2 linked regions of the Homo sapiens genome follow. The protein of the gene in region 1 purifies or fractionates together with the protein of each later gene. This does not show direct contact. Each region holds a gene or a part of one and is shown on either strand. Other genes may lie near its edges. The genes, in order: WDR89 and CA10.

Evidence for each region.
Region 2: the proteins of WDR89 (region 1) and CA10 purify together in Homo sapiens (co-immunoprecipitation; one large-scale study listed by IntAct). This does not show direct contact.

What each region holds. Positions count from the first base shown.
Region 1 is NC_000014.9:63,596,668-63,600,496, reverse strand, and holds the end of WDR89 (WD repeat-containing protein 89), read left to right. Parts: intron 1-523; coding exon of another isoform or gene 524-554; coding exon 555-1,718; 3' UTR 1,719-3,458; downstream 3,459-3,829.
Region 2 is NC_000017.11:51,633,922-51,637,750, reverse strand, and holds part of CA10 (carbonic anhydrase-related protein 10 precursor), read left to right. Parts: intron 1-1,741; coding exon 1,742-1,896; intron 1,897-3,829. UniProt on the Homo sapiens protein: Does not have a catalytic activity.

The sequences.
Region 1 (3,829 bases):
TTGAGGCAGGATCTCACTTTATTCCCCAGGCTGTATGACAGTGACATGATCATGGATCACTGTAGTCTCAACTTCTGGTCTCAAGCAGTCCTCCTACCTCAGCCTCCTGAGTAGCTAGGACTACAGGCATAGGCCACCATGCCCTGCTAATTTATTTTTTGAAGAGACGGCGGGGGGGTCTCCCCATGTTGCTCAGGCTGGTCTCTAATGCCTGGCCTCAAGCAGTCCTCCTACCTCAGCCTCCCAAAGTGCTGAGATTACAGGTGTGAGCCACCACTCCTGGTAGTGAATTCAGTATTAAAGAGTGATTGAATTAGAAGGCAACTGAGTTTTAGTTACATCATAGGAAGGAAATGATTATAGTATTAGAATACATTTCTGTTGATTGATTGATTCATGCCAGCCCTCAGAGGAAAATGTTCTTGATTTAATTGCAATTTTAGAGAAACTTCAAGTTAAATTTTTTTATGTGTCTCCCTTGTTAAGCATTAATTTTTATTTTTATTATTATTATTTTTTACAGAGTTTTACTACCCTTGGATGCTGCTGTTGACATGGAAAAGATTGAGGAACAATTTGCTAATCTGCACATTGTTAAATGTTCCTTAGGAACCAAAGAGCCCACTTACCTTCTTGGTATAGACACATCAAAGACTGTCCAAGCAGGAAAGGAAAACTTGGTTGCTGTTTTATGTTCTAATGGATCAATCAGAATATATGATAAAGAAAGGTTAAATGTACTACGAGAATTTAGTGGATATCCTGGACTTCTTAATGGAGTCAGATTTGCAAATTCCTGTGACAGTGTATATTCAGCATGTACTGATGGCACTGTGAAATGCTGGGATGCTCGAGTAGCCAGAGAAAAACCTGTTCAGCTCTTCAAGGGTTACCCTTCCAATATTTTTATCAGTTTTGATATTAATTGTAATGATCATATTATTTGTGCTGGTACAGAAAAAGTTGATGATGATGCATTGTTGGTGTTTTGGGATGCAAGGATGAATTCTCAGAATTTATCTACAACTAAAGACTCACTTGGTGCATATTCAGAGACACATAGTGATGATGTCACTCAAGTACGTTTCCATCCCAGCAATCCCAACATGGTAGTCTCAGGTTCATCTGATGGCCTGGTAAATGTATTTGATATTAATATTGATAATGAGGAGGATGCACTGGTTACAACCTGTAACTCAATTTCATCAGTAAGCTGTATTGGTTGGTCTGGGAAAGGTTATAAACAGATTTACTGCATGACACATGATGAAGGATTTTATTGGTGGGATCTTAATCATCTGGACACTGATGAACCAGTTACACGTTTGAACATCCAGGATGTCAGAGAAGTAGTTAACATGAAAGAAGATGCTTTGGACTATTTGATTGGTGGCCTATATCATGAAAAGACAGACACATTGCATGTTATTGGAGGAACAAACAAAGGAAGGATTCATTTGATGAACTGCAGCATGTCAGGACTGACCCATGTGACTAGCCTTCAGGGAGGGCATGCTGCTACAGTCCGTTCTTTCTGTTGGAATGTGCAAGATGATTCTTTGTTGACTGGAGGAGAAGATGCACAGTTGTTACTTTGGAAACCTGGAGCTATAGAGAAGACCTTTACAAAGAAAGAGAGTATGAAAATAGCATCCTCTGTGCACCAACGAGTACGAGTTCATAGTAATGATTCTTATAAAAGAAGGAAAAAGCAGTGATAATGCATTTGGCACTTTGTTTGGTAGGTTTTATAGTTTCAAATAGTCCTTCTTGTTTACTACCCATGGTAGACATGTTTAAAGCTTTATGTAAAAACAAGCCAGTTAGCAAACAGTCCTGGAAAAATATGGTGAGAATGGTTTAATTCCGGTCTTCACATATTCTAAAAAATTTTAAAGCCTCTAAGTATAAAATCAGTGAGTTGAAAGTAAAATTTCTTATTTAAAGAACCCATCTGTTAATGTAGTAAATGTTGGCTTTAAAGAAATAGCTCCGATAAGGACTTTTTAGAAGGAAATACTTGGTAAAACTTAATAAAACAGGTGGTTGGCTGCATTTTTTAAGCCCAGTTTTTTACATTTTAAATTGTCTTTATTGTGTATAAAACCAGATTAGACTATATTCTTCATCTGAGGAGCATCTATATGTTTAATACACCTAATGTATTATGCTGGAGTATTTAAATGTAAGTATTTTAATGAGTAAATAGAATTAACCTTTTTTACAAATGAAATGATAGGCATCTATGTAAAGTGAGAAAAATATGTTTCGTAAATATTTGCATCTTTAATATTGTTAGTAAGTAGTAAACAGGTGTTTTGCTGATTGAAAGGAAGTTATCTTGGTAAATTGAGACTCAAAGTGAAATACAAAAATGAAAATATTTATAATAGGACTCGACTTGGAGAAATTGCTATTCTTCCTGTTGTCCAAACCATAAATCTGAGGATAACCTGGGCTTTTCTCTTTCCTCTTCTCCTAACCAGTTTTTCACCAAGTCCTGTGCCATTTCACCTCCTAACGTCTGTCAGCTATCCTTTTGCCTTTACCTCACCACTATTACCCTAGAGAAGACTTTCATTATTTCTCATCTGGATTACCAGCTCGATCTCTAATCTGCTTCAGTTCATCCTTCTTGCTACTTCTAGGCTAAACATCAAAAACAGATCTGGTAGGGGCGGGGAAATGAGGGGGAAGAAACAAAAACGTGATGGTGCCTCATGCTGCTTAAAATCTTCAGTACATTGATGTTTTGATGGCGGACTACATAAGCGTTAAAAATTGTGTTTTTCAGAATCTTTAAAATATAAGACAGTGCTATCTAGTGAATAAAAAAATTAGTTTGAAAGATATCTGGAGAAATCGCATTCATAAAACAATTGGAAGTGAAACTATTAAAACAATAGGGCTTTTTAAAATTAAAAATATTTAAAATTCAAAAGTAATTAATAGTGTTGGAAGATGTAGGTGAGAAAATATTCCTGAAAGTAGAACTGAAAGAGACAAAGAGAAAAGATGAAAGCCACAGAAGATAAATACAGGGGTCAAAACCAGACTAACAGTTTTAGAAAGTGAAAAAAGTTAAAAAAGAAATGGGGGCAGTGGGTTATTAGAAATAACATAAATGGCTGGTATGGTTTGTCTGTGTCCTCACCCAAATTTCATCTCGAATTGTAATCCCCATAATCCCCATGTGTCTAGGGAGAGACCTGGTGGGAGGTGATTGGATCATGGGGGTGGTTTCCCCTACGATGTTCTCCTGATAGTGGGTGAGTTCTCACAAGATCTGATGGTTTTATAAAGGGCTCTGCCCCTTTAACTCCTCACTCTTTCTCCTGAAGCCTTGTGAAGAAGGTGCTTTGCTTCCCCTTTGCGTTCCCCCATGATTGTAAGTTTCTTGAGGCCTCCCTGGCCATGCTGAACTCTTCAGTCAATTAAACACTTTCCTTTATAAATTACCCAGTCTTGGGCAGTTATTTATAGAGTGTGAAAATGGACTAATATAGTGGCTATTCCAGAACTTCAATCTTTAGATTGAAAGGCACAGCAGAGTGTCAAGTGTAATGAATGAAAAAGATCCACATCAAGGCATAGCACTGTGAAGTTTCAGAGTAAATAGAAAATCCTGCAAGTGTCCGGAAAAAAAAAATCACTTAGGAACAGATTTACAGTTGTGTTAGACTCATTAGCAAATCTGGATGACAAAAGATGGTGGATCAATGCCTTCAGAGTTCTGAGGACAGATTCCTACCTATTTGAATTTACAGCTCTCCAAACTCATGCAGCAAATAGATGATAAATTTTTTGAGATATCCCTTGTCAAATGAAT
Region 2 (3,829 bases), on another chromosome or scaffold:
TTGGGCAGCCCACTTTGCCTCCCTGATCTTTAGTTTCTTGTCAGTGGAGGATGTTACTATCTGCCTGACTCATTTTATTGAGTCAATGTGAGGTTCCAGCCATATGTGAAAGTCTTCCTTTACCATATATGTGCACAATACTAAACTGAAGAGGTTCCCTCAACCCCTGAAGAATGAGTACTTTCCCACTGGGAGTTAGACACATGGACGAGAGAACATGTGTGCATCCATGGGGCTGGAGAGTCAGTCTCATCCCTCGGCCAGCCAGGCTTTGGGACCCTGCCATGTGTTCTCCAGGTCTCCTGGACTGGCCACAGTGATGGGTGCTCATGGTATGCCTGGGGATGTGATACCTCTAGAGATATAGATCTGGAATCACTGGGATGCAGAAGGCAAGTGAAGCCATGGATGTAGATGAGCTACTCTCAGATGAGAGGATAGAGTAAGAAAAGAAGGGAGCCTTGGACTGATCTTTGGGGAATTGCATCATTGAGAGAAGCAGGTAGAAGATCAGGAGACAGCAACAAAACCTGAGAGAGAATGGCCAGAAAAATGGGAATACTAAGTATGGTATTTTTGAAGCCAGCAGAAGAGAACAATCACGTGCTAAAAGAAAGGAAGAAGGATCATGAAGAGGGGAGAAGAGGAGAGATACATTGCAATTAACTGATATTTTAAAACTCCAATACACACAATTTTATCAAAAATACAACCAATACATTGACTAAAAAAATTAACAGGAAACACACCAAAATGCTAATAGTAACAGTTTTAGATGACTGAAATTGTTTTTTCTTTTTTCCATATAGTCTGTGATGTACTTATGTCATTTTTACCATTGAATTACTGTATTTAGTAATAGAAGATATATGGGTATGAATACCTCAAATTGGTGTAAGAGAAAAGGCTATCTGCATAGACCTGAGAGAGAGAAAAATACACACACACACACACACACACACACACACACACACAAAATAATCAGTTGTTGAGCTTAACCATAGAATCTCATGGTAGGATTTGGCCTGATTTACTTTTCTATCCAAAAATATTTTCTTATTGTTGTTTTAAGTGAGAATGGTCACCAGGTGAATTTCAACAGGTCTAGAAGCTTTAATTGTCCATCTCATGATACCTGTAATGCCTAGGAGTCCAGATCTCAGGGACTAGAATCAAGGACTCCTCAAACAATCCCTGTGGTAGAACGCATTGCTTACAGCTCACCAATGCTCAGGGCCCCATCCTGTGGAAGGAATGTGCTTCCTCGCATCCCCAACATCAGCCTTAACCATGTGACTTCTTTGGCTACCAAAACATGAGCACAAGTGATGTGTGCCACTTCTGGGATGGAAGTTTTAAGAACCAACACACATTCGCCATGCTTTCGCTTCTGTCACTGTGATCCGCACAGGTCCAGGTGTTTACTGCTCTAAGAGTCTAGGTCCCAAAGCATGGACAATGACATGGAGGGAAGCCTCAGCCAACCTGGAATGATCATGTGTGTGAGCAAGAAATACATTCTTATTGCTTAAAACAACCGAGATCTGGGGGACAACTGCTTGTTACTGCAGCCTGTTCTGACAGATAGAGTCTTCTGGAATTCCAAAAGAAATACATATATATCTGTGTGTGTATATATGTATGTATATGTATATGTATATGTATGTATGTATGTATGTATGTCAGCAATACCATCCCTTTCTCAAGAAACCTAATTTTTAAGTCTTCTTTCCTTCTCTAGATGATGCATATTTACTACAGGGGCTTAATATAGAGGAACTATATCCAGAGACCTCTAGTTTCATCACTTACGATGGGTCGATGACTATCCCACCCTGCTATGAGACAGCAAGTTGGATCATAATGAACAAACCTGTCTATATAACCAGGATGCAGGTGAGTTTCTCTCTGGTCATTTAGCTAATGGAGAAGAATGATGTTAAAAAAAAATCACTGAAATGTGGAGTGCCTATTATAATAGTTTACTAGGACCACTATAACAAAGTCCCACAAACTGGGTAGTTTAAACTAACACAAACTTATCGCCTCACAGTTCTGGAGACTAGAAGTCCAAGATCAAGGTGTCAGCAGCGTTGCTTCCTTCAGCGGAATGTGAGGAAGAATCTGTTCCATGCCTCTCCCCTAGCTTCTAGTGGTTTGCTGACAATCTTTGACGTGCTTTGGCATTTAAAAGCACCACCCCAAGCTCTACCTCCATCTTTTTTTTTTTCTTTTTTGAGATGGAGTCTCGCTCTTGTCACCCAGGCTGGAGTGCAGTGGCGTGATCTTGGCTCACTGCAACTTCCACCTCCTGGGTTCAAGCGATTCTTGTGCCTCAGCCTCCTGAGTAGCTGGGATTACAGACACGTGCCACCACGCCCGGCTAATTTTTATACTTTTAGTAGAGATGGGGTTTCATCATGTTGGCCAGGCTGGTCTTGAACTCCTGACCTCAGGTAATCCATTTGCCTCGACCTCCCAAAGTGCTGGGATTACAGGCGTGAGCCACCACACCCAGCCTCTACCTCCATCTTTATAAGGTGTTCTCCCTGTGTCTGAGGCTCTGTGTCCAAATTTCCCCTTTTTATAAAGGCACCTTCTGTATTCCATTAAAGCCTAACCCCAATAAGCTTGTCTTAGCTCATTCCATCTGCAATGACTATTTCCAAATAAGGTCACATTCTGAGCAACTAGGGGTTACCAGTACCTTCAGCTTATGAATTTCAGGGGTACACGATTCAACCCATATGCCTGGGTTTAAAGAGCCAGCATCCAAAAGGCTTAGCCTGAGCTAATTATAGAAGCATCTCAACTGTCTCAGTGGGAAAAGATAGCCATTAATTCCCAGAGTGTATTCTACAACTACAGTGTTCAGAAAGCAAGCAAGCAAAATGGAAGATGTCATTATGCATTTGAAAAAGTTGGGTTTTAAAAAGTTAAATAGATTCCATTGTTGAAGGATTTCTGGGGTCCTTCTTAAATGCTAATATATGTGTCAGTCTTCAAGAGGAAGTGGTATGATATGTAGTATTTTGCACACATATTTGAATGTGCAGTGTTTTTTTTGGATCATCTCACAGAGTTAGTACTCATCAGAACTGGATGGGAGGCAGATGGGTCCTCCTGTGTGAGCTTGGCTACACGGCTTATTGTGCTCTTCAGGCCTGTCACCCACCTCTATGAAATGAACACTCCTCTTCTTTATTGAGAGGGGGATAAATTACATGAGTTTGCTCCAGCTCTGACATTCTACGACTGTGGGAGTCTATAACAAATTAAAGGAGAGATGAGCAAAGGAAGCAGAAGCCAATATCCTTGACGGGATATGTGTTCCCACCTGACCACCATTTGAACAATTTGAAGTTCCTTAACCTATCTGTATTGAATGGGACCCACTGGGTGACAGGCAACAGTAACTCCCCACTTAAGCTTAGAAAAAGCATTTATTTGAGAGCTACGAGGGCATCTTAGAGAATTTAAAATCAGAAATTGACATCAGAAATTCACTGAAATGGGAACCCCAGAAGTGCTTTCTCTCTGTTGTCCTCTTCTCACCACACATTCACTTCATTCTTCTCTCCTGCTAGAGACCGTCTTCTTTTGCCTCACAGTCCTGTGGCAGAACATGGCTGCAAACAGTCCAGCCACCTGGCCCTCATAGTCTCACAGAAAAGAAACCAAACTGGTCCAGCTTAGTTTAGCTCTGACCCATGGACCAATCACTATGATCCACGTAATACCATGTGGGAGTCATGGAATTATTGAACCAAAGAGTATCAAAGAAAGAAAGAACCTTAGAGAAACCTAACCAGATTTGCTCCTTTTTTGG